Regions from separate parts of the Homo sapiens genome. Here region 1 is linked to region 2. The links come from fine-mapping of genetic effects on gene expression. A gene starts in region 2. The other region holds a variant in brackets. All regions are shown on one strand. Distances are from middle to middle. Region 1 overlaps SHROOM2 (shroom family member 2). Region 2 holds the start of GPR143 (G protein-coupled receptor 143).

Evidence for each region. PIP is the estimated chance that this variant, and not a neighbour inherited with it, causes the effect. A credible set is the group of variants that fine-mapping cannot tell apart.
Region 1: its variant is the best candidate, but not a certain one, in a credible set for the expression of GPR143 in spinal cord (GTEx, PIP 0.69).

The regions. Positions count from the first base shown.
Region 1 is chrX:9,786,791-9,792,164 of GRCh38, forward strand. The region is part of intron 1 of SHROOM2 (shroom family member 2); the gene reads left to right. Among named protein-coding and RNA genes, the nearest start is that of SHROOM2, 3.0 kb to the left of the region's middle. The variant TC/T (reference allele first, on the strand shown) is at 3,182.
Region 2 is chrX:9,763,634-9,769,007 of GRCh38, forward strand. GPR143 (G protein-coupled receptor 143) reads right to left here and starts at 2,214. Exons shown (of 9, transcript NM_000273.3): 1 at 1,935-2,214. The coding sequence starts at 2,184. RefSeq lists an enhancer at 1,120-1,621.

The DNA of each region.
Region 1 (5,374 bases), 23 kb after region 2:
GGGCGGTAGGCTCGCGCCCCCGGGTCTGGCGCGCGCGTCTGCTGGGGTCACCTGCCGGGCCTGGGCGCCGGGACCGGCGTGGGCGTGTGATCCTGGCGGTTCCCCGCGCCTCGCAGAGTTTAAATGGCTCCTGCCCGGAGTCCCTTTCCCCTCCCCCTCCCTCCTCCGGGCAGGGGCCTGGCCGGGTCCTCTGGCGCTCCCGGGCCCGCCAGTGGCGGCCTGCACCTGCGGGGCTGCCTGGAGGCCAGCGAAGGAACGTGTCCCCGAGCCGTCCCCACCTATGTTTGCCTCTCTGGGGTCCCTGGTTCGGCACCCCTTGGACCCGTGCCTGTGATCACTACGAAATCCAGAGTAGCAGCTGTCGCCAGCGCAACTTCTCGATTCCCTTCAGCCCATCAATGTTTACTGACTTTCGGCTTCCAGTCCCAGATCCACTGCGCACTGGATACCTGCGCAAACTTAGAGAAACCTGAAAGCCTGCTTCCTAAGAGCAGGACCCGAGTTCTAATAATAATAAAGAAATTCCAGATGTATCTCATCAGGAATGTTGTGTGTGTGTGTGTGGTTTGCTTTAGAACATTGAATTTTATTGTCTCAAAACAAAATCCATCTGGAAACTTACCAGTTGAACCTGTATGAACTTGTAAAAGCAAACACATAAACAACAGTCCAGTCACCCTGTGTTCTAGTTAAAAGTGTGTAGTGGTCATTTTCTCTGGGAAGGGTTGAGTCGGACCTTTCGTGTGGACGAAGTTCCTTTTAAAATGTAAAGATTCTTGGCGACTAGAAGCGTTTGAAGATAATTTACTGGTTTTCTCGGCTTTCCTGCCTCTCCACAGCAGGAAGAAATTAAGTGATTCCTAACCCGCCGCACTGGTAATCAGTTTGGGAAGTGGGATGGCTTTGTTGTTCAAATAGCAAATGAGACACCAGCGTCTTCCATTCTATATTTTCTGTCGCTTTTATGATTACAAAACTTTGTGGAGGGATTTGGAGAAGCCTTGTTTAGCTTTGCACTAAATTTTTGTTGAACTCAGGAAAGAGGTTGCCATTGTTATAAATTTGACCAATGTGTAATCTTTTATCACACTGGCTTCTTTGGAAACATGGTGGACAGTCATAAAGTGTGTATACTCTGCCCAGCCAGAACACTCCTCTTTTTTTTTTCTTTTATTTCTTTTCTTTTCTTTCTTTCTTTCTTCTTTTTTTTTTTTGAGACAGGGTCTTGTTCTGTCAGCCTCCTGAGTAGCTGGGACCACAGATGTGCGCCACCATGCCTGGTTAATTTTTTAAAATTTTTTGTAGAAACGGGGAGTTTCACCATTTTGCCCAGGCTGGTCTCGAACTCCTCTGCCTCCCAAAGTCCTGGCATTACAGGCATGAGCCACTGCGCTTGGCTCAGAATGTGGATTAATCCAAGCTTTGAATCTTCCTCTCCCAAAAGCTACTGAAAAGTCACTGGGGCTCATTAAAAAATAGCTCTTCTAATCGTTTTTTTTTTTCCACTTGTAATTAAATAGTTACATATTAGAGCCCTGGAATACTGTACAACTCACTTGCTATTTAGCAGACTCTGATTTGGGGATAGCTTGCATTAAGGTAAGAGCGCACCTTCTCTTTATGATAATGAGGGTATCATTTGAAAGCCTCATGGGAGTGCGTGTAGTAGAACTGGGAGGGGTGTCAAGAACAAGGCTGGTTCGGTCCTGGTCTTCAGATGGAATTTTATCAGCCCATTTTATAGATGAAACAGCTGTGGCCCAGGCAGGGCAAATGGTGTATCCTGAGGTCACAAACTGTTGAGTCCTGGGAAAGGCCCTAAGAATCAGACTCTGGCCCCAGTGTTCAAGCCTGCTGCTCCCCTTCAGTCAGTGCCATCTGCTTGGGTCTGGGATCTCCTGCAATGCCATATTGAATACCTTCGTCACATCGGTTAGGTGAGGGTTTGCCAGCCTTGGCATTGGGGACTTTGTGAGCTGAATCTCTTTGCTGTGGGGCTGCCCTGTGCTTTGGAGGATGCTCAGCAGCCTCCCCAGCCTCTACCTGCTTGATGCTACTGTCACCTCTCTCCAGGTGTGATGACAAAAATGTCTCCAGACATTGCCAAATGTCCTCTGGGGGCAAAATTAGCCTGGTTTTGAATCTCTTTTGTTAGATTAACCATATATCACCTTTGCTCTTAAAGGATTCTTGCTCTTAAAACTTCTGTTTCTTTTTGAATAGACTGGCCTTTAGGGTGGTGTGTTTAGAGGCCTCTGGCATTGCCAGTGTTTGCATGGAGAGCTGTTTTCCTCCCACGCGTTGGCCCTGAGAATAGGCTTTATTTACATAGTCAAACTCAAACAAATACTTGCTTCATCTGCATTTTTTGTAGCTGGAGAAAGGAAATTGAAGCAGGAACTCCCAAGTGCTGTGTTTTATGGGCATCCACAGTGGCTGTTCAGAATCAGGACTGACTACTCTCTGGGTCTAGTTTGAAGCTAAAGGGATACCAACTTCAGAGGAGTAGCATTCTTGGAATTTGGGGTGCATGCATGAAGCCCAGCAGAACCTCCGCTGACAGATGGCGACAGGATTCATCACTCCTCAGTACGTTTCTGCTGATTTCTGCCTTGAAATTTTGCTACAGTTGGTGGAAAAAATGCACTCAAACCCATATTTCCATGCTGTTGTTAGAGAGGGGGCAGGAATAACATCCATGCTGTAGGAATCTATGTAACGGAAGTAGAGATGGTGGATATATGTGATCCTGGTGGGTTTTTTGCATGTTTCTGTTCCCATCCATTCAACCAGTGGAAGTCTTCAGTGGGGGGAGGGGAGGGGACTGATTTCTAAAATGTCACTAGAGTGGCTTGAATTCCACAAAGCTGTTTGGGGGATTCATGAGGAAGCGTTAAATACACCAGCTGGGTGTCAGCAGCCCCCTGTGGCCTCAGGAATGTTTGTTAAGGGAGGGAAGGAATGAAGCCCCAGCCTCTCCTGTTCACTATTTCTTAGAGTCCGCTCCCTCCCCCAAAAAGAATGCCAGAAGCCTTAGCCCGAAGCTCCAAAGAAGACAGTAACTTGGGCCTGGCCTAGCCCCAAGGGCAGCTCCTTTGGGAACCCATTGATTTTCGGGTTGCCATTGGGCACCAGAGCTGTTGTGTGCGACAAGACTGCTGTGGTCTGGGACGCTTGGAGG[TC/T]CCCCCCACCTGACTCACCCACCCCAGGGCTTCAGACTCTGAGAACATTTCTCTGGATTGGAGACAGAGCTTTGAAATGTCCTTTCCAGTGTGAATGCCAAAGACGGAATCAGGGCATATTTTGGGGGGCGTGCAGCCAGGTGGCAAGTGTCTTATGTAAAGTGTTAGCTGAGTCCTTGATTGCAGAGGGCACAGGGCTGAGACTGGTGGTTGGTGATGGGCAGGAGTGGAGGCCCCGCGCCTCTGATGTACCTTACTTATTGGTTTGGAAAGGGGGCTCTGCATTATGGGCCATGCCAAGTCACCTCGTGACCCGAGGACCGGGGAGATCAGAGTGACCACCCTGGTCGGGATCAGTTCTTGTCTCATATGCCATTATATTGGCTCCCAAGAGCCAACCAAGCTCTTTGTGAAATATCAGTAAAGGTTTTGAAAAAGAGGGACCTGATGAATTCAGCAGTGGGTCAGGAGCGGGTGACTCTCAACTTTGTGGCTGCTGGTGGATTTTTGTGCCCAGATGCAGTGTGCGGTCAACATCTGCACGAGGGAGTGCTGCTGCTTCTCCAGGTGTCTGAGAACCAGTGGGTGAGGGCTTGGATCTCCCTTGCCTCTGCCATCTCTAAGTGATGTCCGAGTTGTAAAGCTTTACTCACTTTTTGATGCCAGCTACCATGTTTTCTTCAGCTATTAGGATAAGTGTCATTATAAAGATCCATCTGTATTTAAGAATTAATAGTAAGGTTAAAAACCAAGAGGTGAGCTTTCTTTCCTGTGCTGAAAGACCCTTTCAGTTGGTAGGCCCGCCTTGCCAACTGGCTTTCAAGTCTATCTTTATTACCTTTTCCCAGCCTGTGAATTAATGTGACCCTGCTGAATTCTCATCCTTGTTCTCCGGCGATGTTTTGGGCAAGAGTGTGGAGTCAGGCAGTGAGCCTCAAGTCCTATTCCAGGGTCTGGGAGCTGGAGGCTTTGAGGGTCAGCTCTGGGAGGATTCTTCCTCTCTTAGACATTAACTCAGCTTGACTCACGCCTATGAATCCAGAGCCTTCTGCGATTATGAGAAGCTGTAAACATAAGCTATGCATCTCACTTCTGTACCAGGATGCGTTCGGTCTTCATGGCTCAGTTATGAGTATTTCTTAACATGTCGTAACATTTATCTTTTGAAAAAAAAAAAGAAAAGAAAACTAGTTTGCCCAAGAGCTAAAGGTAGAATAGTATGATAATGAAAGGCTCAGAACAAGTAGCAGTTTTCACCTTGTCCTAATGAGCTGGGGGTTTCTTAATCTACCTTTGTAATTCATGGTCAAAAAAACTGGCTTGCCACTTGGGAAGGGCTGGTTTTTCTCTTTGGAAAGCATTTTGGAGTTGTTTGTCCCCTTGCCAGAGTTGTTTTGTATCAGCATGCAAATAAACCTGGATTTGTGGCCAAGTTCTTAAGGGCAGTGGAGAAAAGCTGGGGCTCTGTGGAACTTTTCTTCTTGCACACCGGGTGCAGCGGAAACATTCTACACGATAATGTTAGAATGTAAAAGCTGAATGGACTTTTTATTCAGGTCTTCTTTTACTTTCAAGCACTGTAGTCAGCAGTGGGGCAATTCATGAAGGATAAATTCTGCAGGTTTCTGCAAGCCCTCTTCCTACACATGCAAGCCGAAAACTTTAACCCACATGAAGGATTTTGAAAGAGTTCTGGGTTGCCTGTTGCTCTTTTAGGCCTTTAAAAAAATATCACCAGTGCCAGGCACGGTGGCTCACGCCTGTAATCCCAGCACTTTGGGAGGCCGAGGCGAGTGAATCACCTGAGGTCGGGAGTTCAGGACCAGCCTGACCAACATGGAGAAACCCTGTCTCTACTAAAAATACAAAAAAATTAGCCGGGTGTGGTGGTGCATGCCTGTAATTCCAGCTACTCGGGAGGCTCCCGGGAGGCAGAGGTTGTGGTGAGCTGGAGATCGTGCCATTGCCCTGGGCAACAGGAGCAAAACTCCATCTCGAGAATAGAATAGAATAGAATAGAATAGAATAGAATAGAATAGAATAGAATAGAATAGAATAGAATAGAATAGAATAGAATAGAATAGAATAGAATAGAATAGAATAGAATAGAATAGAATAGAATAGAATAGAATAGAATAGAATAGAATAGAATAGAATAGAATAGAATAGAATAGAATAGAATAGAATAATCA
Region 2 (5,374 bases):
ACCCGTACCTCACGAATCCCACGTACAGGGATTCACTGTAAGTGTTTCTATTATAGACTGCATTTACGCATGGTGGAAATGTTCCAAAAAGCTAAACAGAATGGCCAAATCTAGCTGAGAGGTCTGTATAAAGTGTCACATAATAGTTTAAAGCAGATGTTGGCAAACTCATTCTTAATATTTTTGGCTTTGGGAGCCATACTTTCTCAGTCCAATATTCACCCTGCCCTTGTAGGGTAAAGGCAGCCATGAATAATTCACAAATGCACATGAACAACATAGCTGCGTTCCCATCAAACTTTATTTGTAGACATTAACATTTAAATTTCAGTAATAGTCACATGCCAGGAAATATTTTTTAATTTTGATTTTTAAAAACATTTTAGGGCTGGGTGAGGTGGCTCACGCCTGTAATCCTAACACTTTACGATGCCAAGGGTGGTGATCTTTTAATTAAGCCCAGGAGTTGGAGACCAGCCTGGGCAACATAGTGAGACCCCACATATATTTACCCTAGCATGGTGGCGTGTGGCTGTAGTCCCAGCTACTCGGGTAGCTGAGGTGGGAGGATCGCTTGAACCCAGGAGGTCGAGGCTGCAGTGAGCTGTGATTGTGACACTGCACTCAACCTGGGCAAGAGGGTGAGACCCTGTCTCAAAAAACAAAATCATTAATTTTTTAAAAAGTAGGATGTAAAACCATTCTTAGCTCGTGGACCCTAGAAAACGGGCAGGATTTGGTCTGAGGGCTGCAGTTTGCGCACCTGTGGTGTAAAAACCATACCCAAAAAGCCTGGATAGGGAAGGGATTTCAGCTTACAAAATACTCGAGAGAATATATAGTGCACAATAGAAAAGAATTTACACACGCGCACACACACACACACACACACACACACACACACACACACAGAGCGAGACAGAGAGAAGTTAATTGTTAGTCTCTCCCTGGTGCAGTTGGGCAAAAATGAGGAAATCTTTTCTGGTCTGGGTTTTGCTTAACTGCGCCATCTGAAGTTTCCATATAACAAACACAATAAACGGATTTTTTAAAACCCAACGTCCCTTGGATGGGAATTTTACCGACCATGTGTTTGCAAAACTACCTAGTCGGCCGGGCGCGGTGGCTTACGCCTGTAATCCCAGCACTTTGGGAGGCCGAGGCGGGTGGATTACCTGAGGTCAGGAGTTCGAGAGCAGCCTGGCCAACATGGTGAAACTCCGTCTCTACTAAAAATACAAAAATTAGTCGGGCATGGTGGCGCGCGCCTCCCCCAGCTACTCGGGAGGCTGAGGCAAGAGAATCCCTTGAACCCGGGAGGTGGAGGTTGCAGTGAGCCGAGATTGCGCCACTGCACTTCAGTCTGGGCGACAGAGCAAGACTCCGTCTCAAAAAAAAAAAAAAAAATTACCTAGTTGTCCCATCCGGTCCCTAGGGAACAGCCTCCGCTTTCTCTTTTCTCTGTGGTTCAAGTGTTAAGACGGCCAGCCCAACCCGCTAGCCGTGCGCCATCACCCGGGCACCGATCAAGTTCCAACCCGAGTGGATCGAGTTCCAACCTGCGGGCCATGCGCCCTCACCCGGGCATCGATCCGGTCTCAACCTGCGGGCCACGCACTCTCACCCGGGGATTGAGCAGGTCCCAACCCCAGGGCCTCACGCCCTCACCCCAGCACTGAGCAGGTCCCAACCCGCGGGCCTCAAGCCCTCAGCCGGGGACCGAGCAGGTCCCAACCAGCCAGCTACGCGCCCTCAGCCCTGCACCGGGCAGGTTCCAACCCGCGGGCCTCTCGTCCTCACTCCATCACGGAACAGGTCCAAATCCACAGGCCGTGCGCCCTTATCCGGGCACCAGTCGGGTCTCAACCTGCGGGCCACGCGCCCTCACCCAGGCGCTGATCAGATTCCAACCCGCGGGCCGCGCGCGCCCTTACCCAGGCAGCCGAGAAGGTCGCAGGCAGCGGCAGCGCGCAGGATGCGGACCGAGGCCGGCGGGGACGTCGCGGGGGACCCGGGGCCCGCGGGCCGGCGGCCGGGCAGCAGCTGCAGAAGGCCCAGCGCCAAGCGGAGCCCGCCGCTGCCCAGGCAGAGCGCGTGGAAGGCCCGCGGCTGGAAGCTCAGCACGAGCTGCGTGGCTGCGTCCCGCGTGGGGCAGCAGAAGGTCCCTAGGCGCGGGGAGGCCATGGGCTGTGTTCGCGGACGCGGCTCGGGTGTGCCAGGACCCCGCCGGCCTGCCTGGGTCATGTGCTGGGCGGGCTGGGGGCGGCATCATGTGCCCTGGGCCTCTCCCCCACCCCAACCCCCAGCGCCTGCAGTAGAGCCAGGCTCGGTGGGGGCCGAGAGCACTGGGCTAACGCCACGAGGCCTCACGAGGTGATGCTTGGGCGGGCGGAGGAGGAGGACAGAGAGAGGGAGGGCTGAGAGGAGAGGAAGAGGGAGGAGGAGGAGGGAAGTGGAAGGAGAAGCAGAAAGGTTGGGAAGGTTACCTTTCTCCCCATTCACCAAGCCTTCCTGGTGGTTTCTCTGCCACCTAGAGCGCCAAACCTGCCATCTTTACTGGTCTTCTAGAGAAACAGGCCTCGTGGACTAGATCTTTCCTATTTGGGACTCTGACATCCTGATTTTGATGCCTTTAAGGCGCCAGAACATGTTCATAAACTGTGACTGATCCCTGTAACTGCTTTTTTCCTAAGTAGAGATGGTTGTCCAATTAGTGCTTTTTTTTATGGCCTCTCTCATTCATGGATATAATCCCACAGAGGCAGGATTTTCGTTTACAATTAATGAATGAAACAAACAGATCAATGTTAAAGAAAGAGCAGTAGCTCACACCTGTAATCCCAGCACCTTGGGAGGCCGAGGCAGGCAGATCGCTTGAGCTCAAGAGTTGGAGACCAGCGTGGGCAACATGGCGAAACCCCACCTCTATTAAAAATACAAACATTAGCCCGGTGTGGTGGCCCAGGCCTGTGATCCAAGCTACTCGGCAGGCTGAGGTGGGAGGATCGCTTGAGCCCAGGAGGTGGAGTTTGCAGTGAGCCAAGATAGTGCCACTGCACTCCAGCCTGAGCGATAGAGCCAGACCTTGTATCAAAAAACGAAACAAAACAAAAATTAGCTGGATGTGGTGGGGCGTGCTTGTAGCCCTAGCTTCTGGGGAGGCTGAGGTGGGAGGATCACTTGAGCCCGGCAAGTGGAGGTTGCAGTGAGCAGAGATTACACCACTGCACTCCAGCCTGAGCAATGGAGTGAGACCCTATCTCTCTCTCTCACACACACACACACACACACACACACACACACACACACACACAGAATTAAGTTTAAAATTTAAAAACATTAAAAAAATAAAGGGAAAAGTACTCAGCATAAGTACACACAGACACATTTTGCACCTTAACTTTCAGTTCTATTTATTTGGATTTTTCTTAACTGCGTTAATTTTTCTATGTTTTCTCATACATTGAAAATCTTGCTTTATTCTATACATGTAAGTTTCCAAGTAATATTGTGTTAATGATTACAGTAAGCATACTAAGATTTTTTTTTTTAAGTTCTTCAAGGCTGAAAATAGAAGTGCTCCTTCTAGATTATGGCCTTTATTTTAAAAAAAGAAAAGAAAAAAAAATCCAGCTCCATCATATTTATCATCTTCAACAAACCTCATTGGCTCTTTGTGACCACACAAGAGACACCCTTCCTCCTCTCTCCTGGTAAAATGGGCCCCTCTCTGGGTTTTTTTCAAGCAACCAAGGTGCAGGTGTCCCCATTGTGTTCATGGACTTTCCTCACTTGTTCTCCCCACCAGCTTTGCGGTTTTAAGGAAGGCATGATCTGTGCCGTCTTCCTCTAGGGATAGCAGGACTGGCCTTCCCTTGGGACCCCACAGAAGGCAGGCGGGAGGCTCCACTGCCAGACAGGAAGCGGAGCCTTATTTAACAACAATGAGGTGCAAACTCCACCACTTCAAAAGAGTCCAGATCTGGCACGTCTATAAACGCAGCCTGTTCACTCCACAGCTGCCTTCCTAGAAGTCAGAACAGACTGACATCTTCAGAAAGCTTAACAGCTCTGCTGGATTACACACTCCATTGTAAAAACAGTCAGAAGCACCATAGAACTACTCCCCAAGCATTAATGTTTAAAAGCTTGAATTCTAATATCTAATTTGGACAGTGGCTCTCTTTCCTTCTGCCTTGGTAAGCAGAGTTGCTTCTGGAGGTTAGTGTAATGGAAAGTGCTTTAAAAGATAAAAATGAAGAGTGTCTGTACATTTGCCTGAAGGTTGAGGGCCAGTGGGCCAGGCAAAGGGGTCCCTGCATTTGAGTCACTGTTTCATGCCCCAGAAAACACACTCCGCCTCTCTGCTTCCTACGTGATAACCTGGGAGTACTCTCCAGGGGGCTCTGGCTGACTCTGGTGCCCACTACTCAAGCTCAGTAGTCAGAATCTCATCAGTGAGAAAATGGATATGAATGCAGATTCCTAGGGCCATGGCACAGATGACAATGGTAAAGATGAGCCTCAGAGTAAAGGTGCAGAAGCATGAGTGTAAGACTAAATTTAAAACCCTGTCATCAAAGTGAGAGGGAACTAGAAATTGGTATGAGAGGCTGGGCCCAGTGGCTCACACCTGTAATCTCAGCACTTAAGGAGGCTGAGGCAGGAGGATTACTTGAGCCCAAGAGTTTGAGACCATCCTGGGCAACATAGTGAGAGCCCATCTCTAGCGTCTTCCTCTAGGAGCAGCATCTTTTGAAGTGGTGGAGTTTGCAGCTCATTGTTGTTAAATAAGGCTCTGCTTCCTGTCTGGCAGTGGAGCCTCCTGCCTGCCTTCTGTGGGGTCCCAAGGGAAGGCCAGTCCTGCTGTCCCTAGAGGAAGACGACACATCTCAAATTAGCAGAGCGTGCTGCTGCGCACCTGTAGTTGCAGCTACTGGGGAGGATGAGGTGGGAGGATCACTTGAGCCCAGGAGTTTGAGGTTGCAGTGAGCTGTGATTGCACCACCAAACTCCAGCTTGGGTGAACTGAGATGACAAACTTTTTTTTTTTTTTTCCTTTGAGACAGAGTCTTGCTCCATTGCCCAGGCTGGAGTGCAGTGGCGTGATCTCAGCTCACTGCAATCTCTGCCTCCTGGGTTCAAGTGATTCTCATGCCTCAGCCTCCTGAGCAGCTGGGACCACAGGCACATGCCATCACACTCAGCTAATTTTTTGTCTTTTTAGTAGAGATAGGTTTCGTCATGTTGGCCAGGCTGGTCTTGAACTCCTGGCCTCAAGTGATCCACCCGCTTTGGCCTCTCAAAGTGCTGGGATTACAGGCATGAGCCATCATGCCTGGCCTGACAAAACTTTTCATGAAACAGTACAACT